Linked DNA regions of Homo sapiens. The protein of the gene in region 1 interacts with the protein of each later gene in a biochemical or structural test. Each region holds a gene or a part of one and is shown on either strand. Other genes may lie near its edges.

Region 1 (3,650 bases):
TTCAAGGCATGAGACTGGACAGAATTCCTGTGGGAGTGAATGAAGTTACAGAGAAGAAGATGTCCTAGGACAGAGCCCTGGGGCAGCCCAACATGAAGGATGGGAACCCAGTGAGAGTGCCTGGGCAGGAGTAGCCAGCAAGATAGGGAGGAAACCAGGAGAAGGGGCTGTTCTGAAAGCCAAGGGTGGAGTGCAGTGGCACAATCTCAGCTCACTGCAACGTCCGCCTCCTGGGTTCAAGCGATTCTCTTGCTTCGGCCTCCCGAGTAGCTGGGACTACAGGCGCGTGTCACCACACTCTGCTAATTTTTTGTATTTTTTTTTTTTGAGATGGAGTCTCGCTCTGTTGCCCAGGCTGGAGTGCAGTGGCGCGATCCCGGGTTCACGCCATTCTCCTGCCTCCCGGGTTCACGCCATTCTCCTGCCTCAGCCTCCTGGGTAGCTGGGGCTACAGGCGCCCGCTACCATGCCTGGCTAATTTTTTGTATTTTTAGTAGAGACAGGGTTTCACTGTGTTAGCCAGGATGGTCTCAATCTCCTGACCTCATGATCCACCCGTGTCGGCCTCCCAAAGTGCTGGGATTACAGGCGTGAGCCACCGTGACCGGCAATTTTTTTTTTTTTTTTTAGTAGAGGCAGGGTTTCACCGTGTTAGCCAGGCTGGTCTCGATCTCCTGACCTCATGATTGGCCCGCCTCGGCCTCCCAAAGTGCTGGGATTACAGGTGTGAGCCACTGCGCCCGGCCAGACATTTTAATCTCACAGTTCTGGAGACTAGAAGTCCAAAACCAAAGGGTTAGCAAGCACACACCCTCAAAGGCTCTAAGAGGGCAATCCTCCCTTGCCTCTCCCAAGCTTCTGCCCCATTTATTCCTGGGCTTGTGGCTGCCTCACTCCAGTCTCCGAGGCAGTCCCGACATGGCCTCCTCCCCTTGCGTCTCCCTCTGGCTTCTCTCTTCTGTCTCTCATAAAGACACGTTGTTGGATTTAGGGCCCACCCACGTCACCCAGAATGATCTCATCTTGAGATCCTACATCTGCAAAGACCCTTTTCCCGAATCACATATGTTTCAGGGGTTAGAACATGGGCATATCTTTTCGGGGGGCTACCATTCAGCCCACTACACTGGATGAGGGGCCGGTACCCTCCACTTCTCCTGCTTGGAGGTGTGTAGGGGATCAGGATTCCCAGCATACTGACATCTCCCTCCACAAACAGTCTTGTCCCGACTCTCCCATCTCTGGTGAAATTCTTCTATTTCCAGCCTGGAGCTAGGCCTTTTCAAGTCCCACATGGGTGGTCCAGCACCTCCCTTTGGAATGGGAGTATCTGCTACCCCTTAGACTGAAAACCCACTTTAGCATCCTGATACACTAGGTGAATTATCAGCATTCTGTTTAAAATGTAGCCCCAGAACTCATAGGCTTTTTCTGCTGGGTAAGGATGTGGGTCTCCTGTGACTCCCCTGCTGCCTTTCTCTTTCAGCCCTTGCCCTGTTGGATGAATAGGCACCTCTGGAAGAGCCAACTGTGTGAGATGGTGCAGCCCAGTGGTGGCCCGGCAGCAGATCAGGACGTACTGGGCGAAGAGTCTCCTCTGGGGAAGCCAGCCATGCTGCACCTGCCTTCAGAACAGGGCGCTCCTGAGACCCTCCAGCGCTGCCTGGAGGAGAATCAAGAGCTCCGAGGTGAGGAAAGAGTCAGGGGATCCAGCCCTGCTGAGGGGAAGGCGTCTTCTCCCCACCTGCACCTCTGCGTTTCCTGGGCCTGGGGTGGGGATGTGCTGCCCTCCCTCTTGGTTTCAGGAAGTAGACTCTGAGATGCAGATTAGCGGGGAGGAAGTTTAGCATGCTCTCAGGACCAGTACTGGGAAGGGAAAGGAGGGACAGGGGAAGAAGCCAGGGAGGGCAGAGGGAGAAGCACGCTGCCGGGTAGGCTCCAGGACAGCCTTGCTGGATCTTACAGGGAGCTCTGGAGCTGGAATGAACCTTCCAGGTTGGACCAACATGTCCAGGCCTCTGTGTCCCTGCACTGAGCACTCATGAAGTGCTGTCCATCCTGGGACAGGGCAGAGTCGGCGCTGGGAAGAGGCGTGGTCTGCCCAGAGAGGGGGTGGGGCCTGTCCTGGAAATGGGCGGGGCATGCCCTGGTAGAGGGGCGTGGTCTGTCTTGGGAAGGAAGGTGCGTGGCCCCCACAGGCAACATTCCTCTGGGGCAATCCCGGCGCACACCTCAGCGGAGGTGAAGGCTGACTTCCCACACCCAGTGGCTGGGACTGGGGAGTTCTTTCCTAGACTGCCATCCGGGCGCCCCTCACCCTCTTGCTGCTCAGCTCCAGGTCGTCATGGGTTCAGGGCTCAGCTGCACGCTCCTGCCCGCGCCCTGGGCGTGATGGCACCCCCAGCCCCTGCCATTCTTCCCCCTCACCCCCTCTCCCTGCCACTGCTCTGCATTGCCCTGGGTTAGCCTGGCGGGGCCAGGTGGCACCCGCCATATACTCTTGCCTTTCTGCTGCGGGGGCCTTCTAAGCCTCGGGTCCCAGAGCTGCAGGGAGGGGCGGCATAGACTCCCCACATGGCTCACTGGGTGTGGTGGGGCCTGTAGCCCTTTTTGTTTCATCCTTTGGTTCCTGCTGGGGACTCAGGCCTAAGTGTCCACCCCATCGTGGAGGACAACACCCCTTCCTTGCAGGAGTCATCCCTGAGCTGGCAGCTTCAATTGGCTCTCCGTGTCCTGGCTGGCTGGCAGCTCCTGGGCGAGGTGGCATGTGCCGTGACTACTAGAGATCGCTGTCATGGGCCCACTCCCCCGCCTTCTTTGCTGGACTGTGGTCCGAGATGTTATGTGGGGCTCTGTGCTGACAAGTCACATAGTCTGTAGGCTTCAGAGAGTGGCTCTGGCTGACACCCCGTGGGCAGAGACAAGACCCATGCCTGCGATGTGTCTCCTCTTACTGTCAAGGCAAATCACCTTTCCTTCCATGGAGGAAGGGGTCAGTGCAGTCAGCTTGCTGTCAGGGGGCTGCTTGGTCTCCTCGACGGTGAGGCTGAATTGGAGAGGCCCTGCTGGAGCATGGAGACCCAACATGACCTGCCTGTTCCAGGACAGGGTCCCCCACCTCAGTGCCATCGGCACCTGGGGCTGGAGAATTCTCTTGTACGTTGTAGGGTGTGGAGCAGAGTCCCTGGCCTGTACCTGCTAGATGCCAGTAGCACCTGTCCTGTTGTGACAACTAACAATATCCCCAGATATTTATTGCCAAATGACCCCTGGGGGATACAGTTGTCCCTGGTGAGACCCACTGTATTGGGATCTTCAAAGCACTGGTGCACAGAGAGGTGACAGTTAGACTGGGGGCTTCTGCTCATCCCCAGGAGAGTGCTCTATTGAGGGGGACTTGAGGGTGAGTGTTGCAGGCCAGCTGTGCAGGGACCCTGGCACAGCGTATGGCGCCCTTGCTTCCCTTCCAGGCTGTGTGTTCAGTGCAGCAGCTTCCCTCGGGCTCCAGGGACACAAGGAGGCCTCAAGGCTGTATTGACTCCCCCTGCTCCGCCTGACCTGAGCTTTGTGGGTGGCAGGTGAAACTTGGTAGCTCCATGTGTCAGGCCCTGGGCCAAGCCCCTAAGGGCCCAGAAGATGTCTGTCCCCCA
Region 2 (3,650 bases), on another chromosome or scaffold:
CTCTGTCTCTAAATAAATAAATAAATAAATAAATAAATAAATAAATAAATGTAGATCTTTGTTACTGCATTAAAAAACTTTTTATCATGGAATAATTCTAGATTTCTAGGAAAGCTGTAAAGGTGTAGAGAGTTCCAGAATACCGCCACAACTTCTCCCGATGACAGCATGTTCTGTCACCACATCAGAGCTAAGGAATGAACACTGACACAGTATCTGTTAACTAAAATTCTTTTGGACTTCAATAGTTTTTCCACAAATGTCCTCTCTTCCAGGATCTGACACAAGATGCATTTAGGGTATTCCTTTTTATTATTTATTTATTTATTTATTTATTTGAGACGGAGTTTCGTTCTTGTTGCCCAGGCTGGAGTGCAGTGGCGTGATTTTGGCTCACTGCAACCTCCACCTCCTGGGTACAAGCGATTCTCCTGCTTTCAGCCTCCCAAGTAGCTGGGACTACAGGCGACCACCACCACATCCAGCTAATTTTGTATTTTTAGTAGAGAAGAGTTTTCTCCATGTTGGTCAGACTGGTCTCGAACTCCCGACCTCAGGTGATCCACCCGCCTTGGTCTCCCAATGTGCTAGGATTACAGGCGTGAGCCACTGCGCCCGGCCAGGGTATTCCTTTTTAAAAACAGGGTCTCGGGCTTGGTGTGATGTTTCACGCCTGTAATCCCAGCACTTTGGGAGGCCAAGGCAGGTGGATCACGAGGACAGGAAATTGAGACCATCCTGGCTAACACGGTGAAACCCCATCTCTACTAAAAACAAAAAATTAGGGCCGGGTGCAGTGGCTCACACCTGTAATCCCAGCACTTTGGGAGGCCAAGGCGGATGGACCACAAGGTCAGGAGATCGAGACCATCCTGGCTAACACGGTGAAACCCCGTCTCTACTACAAATACAAAAAAGTAGCCGGGCGTGGTGGTGGGCGCCTGTAGTTCCAGCTACTTAGGAGGCTGAGGCAGGAGAATGGCGTGAACCCAGGAGGTGGAGCTTGCAGTGAGCCAAGATCGCGCCCACTGCACTCCAGCCTGGGCGACAGAGTGAGACTCTGTCTCAAAAAAAAAAAAAAAAATTAGCCGGGTGTGGTGGCACACACCTGTAGTCCCAGCTACTCGGGAGGTTGAGGCAGGAGAATCACTAGAACTGGGGAGGCGGAGGTTGCAGTGAGCCGAGATCATGCCACTGTACTCCAGCCTGGGCGACAGAGTGAGACTCCGTCTCAAAAATAGTTAACTAATTAATTAATTAAAAAAAATATATATATATAGGGTCTCATCGTTGTCACCCAGGCTGGAGTGCAGTGGTACAATCGTAGCTCACTGCAAACCTCCAACTCCTGGGCTCAGAGATACTCCTGCCTCATCAGCCTCCCAAGAAGGTGAGACTACAGGCATATACCACCGTGCTCAGCTAAGTTTAAGTATATTTTGTAGAGACAGGGTCTCACTCTGTTGTCCAGGCTGGTCTTGAGCTCCTGGGCTCAAGTGATCCTCTTTGTCTTGGTCTCCCAAAGTACTGGGATTACAGGTGTGAGACACTGCACCCGGCCTGGGTACTGTATTTTTACCAGCTGCACTCAACACCCCAAGATGTGGTCACAGCAGTGATTTACCCAACGCTTTATTTATTTATTTATTTATTTTTGAGACGGAGTCTTGCTCTGTCTCCCAGGCTGGAATGCAATGATGCAATCTCGGCTCACTGCAACCTCTGCCTGCTGGGTTCAAGCGTTTTTCCTGCCTCAGCCTCCCGAGTAGCTGGGATTACAGGCGCCTGCCATACACCTCGCTACTTTTTTTGTATTTTTAGTAGAGACAGGGTTTCACCATGTTGGCCAGCCTGTTCTTGAACTCCTGACCTCAGGTGATCCTCCTGCCTTGGCCTCCCAAAGTGCTGGGATTACAGGCGTGAGCCACCGCGCCCCACCTACCCAACACTTCAGTAACAGATGTTGAGTCGTTTCCCGGATCACATCCTGGACAATGCTGCAGAACGTCTGTGACGCAGCAGTGAGAAGGGACAGGAAAGGCACTATGGCCAAGGCCCGGGCTCGGCCTGCTCACAGCTGTGTCCTGAGATGGAGGCCAGCTCACACTGGGTCTGGAGCTGCTCTGCAATGCCCTGTCCTCAGGAACTCCCCCCGGTGTGTGCACGCGCATGCGTGTTTGTGTGTGCACATGCACAGAAGGGCTGCTCACCGTCCTCCACGTAGTCGATGGTGGAGAGATGCTGGATCCGGCTGGACACCACACTGCCCTGCCTCCGCAGCTTGGGGCGCTGAACAGGAGCCAGTGAGGAGCTGGGGTCCGAGGGCGAGCCAGTCGCACTGTCCTGGGGGCCTGCGGGCTCCGCCGCCTGGCTCAGTTCGATGCAGTACTCAATGAGACTGCTCATCAGTTCGGCCTGGGGAGGAGGGGGCAGTGTGAGGCCTGGCCAGGGCCCCCTTCCATGCCTGTTGCTGAGCCTGAAATGAGCTCTGCTCTCTGGTTGGGGAAGCAGGGGAGGGGACACACATCACTCAGGAGGGAGGGAGCAGGGAGGCAGGGGAGGTGTCCCACTTGGGTGACTGTGAAGGTGAGTCCTGGTGGATGAGGAGGGGTCTCCAGATCTGGGAGTTCAGGTGGGAAAGAAAGAACATTCTGGTCAGAAGGCACAGCCCAGGAAGGCTGACTCCATGGGCAGAAGCAGGTGGGGAGGGAGGGGGTAGGGAGCCAGCTGCTGCAGAGAGGACGAAGAGTGGGGAAGCGGGGCGGGGAGGCGGGTGGTGCTGGCTGGGAGGAAAACCTGCAGCCAGGAGGAAGGGGCGCGATGTCACCAGGGCAGGGGCGGGCGGCTCCCTGCCAGCACGTTCTTCAAAAGTGACTCCTACTCAACAGGTGTGAAGCATGAGGCACACTGACAGAAAAGATGCAGCAGCCGGGTGCCAGCGGGCACAGCTGGGCACCAAGGACAGGGCCTTCAGGGGTTTGAGGGAGTCGCAGAGGGTGTTAAAAGGGTGGCACCCCTTAGGACACAGGTATTTCCTGAGTGCCTCCCACGTGCCAAGCACTGCTGCAGGCCTGGGATAAGATGAGGCCAAGTAGACAGGAATGGCCACCTGTGCTCCTGACTGGTGGGGCTGGGTCAGATGCTGGAGTGGCCCTGCGGAGACTGGCCTGGCTCCTGCCTCTCCACAGGGCAGCTACAATCCCTCTGGGCTGGGCAGGTGGGCACCGCTGCTCGGCCCAGAAGGAAGAGCAGAGGCCTGGTGGGCTCTCCACGCTCCCTGCCCTCAGCTCAGTCCACCCACACTCCTCTCCTCACCAAGTGGACTCCACCAGCCAAAGGGCAGTGGGCTGGCGAGGGGACGGCAGCCGGTGGGGACAGAGTCCTGAGTGCAACCATAACAGGGAAGCCTACTAAGTTTCCTAGAACAAAAACTCCTGCACAGCAACATGCCTCTGAGGCTCAGGAAGCCTGCCGTTCAAATGCAGCCAAAAGAGGAAGCTCTGCTGAACATCTGTCCAAGATAAAACTCAGCAAGCCAGCGTCAGAAAGGAACTTCCTCAACCTGATGAAGCGCATCTCTGAAGAACCCACAGCAAAATCCCACTTATTCAGTGAAAGACAATGTTCTCTCTCAGGCCAGGTGCGTCAGG

What was found. The genes of interacting proteins can lie anywhere in the genome.
Region 2: the proteins of IKBKG (region 1) and FRMD8 form a complex in vitro, tested with the Homo sapiens proteins (one study listed by BioGRID and IntAct).

Annotation. Positions count from the first base shown.
Region 1 is NC_000023.11:154,550,502-154,554,151, forward strand, and holds part of IKBKG (NF-kappa-B essential modulator), read left to right. Parts: intron 1-1,486; coding exon of another isoform or gene 1,487-1,501; coding exon 1,502-1,688; intron 1,689-3,650. UniProt on the Homo sapiens protein: Regulatory subunit of the IKK core complex which phosphorylates inhibitors of NF-kappa-B thus leading to the dissociation of the inhibitor/NF-kappa-B complex and ultimately the degradation of the inhibitor.
Region 2 is NC_000011.10:65,403,629-65,407,278, reverse strand, and holds part of FRMD8 (FERM domain-containing protein 8), read right to left. Parts: intron 2,416-3,650; coding exon 2,211-2,415; intron 1-2,210. UniProt on the Homo sapiens protein: Promotes the cell surface stability of iRhom1/RHBDF1 and iRhom2/RHBDF2 and prevents their degradation via the endolysosomal pathway. By acting on iRhoms, involved in ADAM17-mediated shedding of TNF, amphiregulin/AREG, HBEGF and TGFA from the cell surface.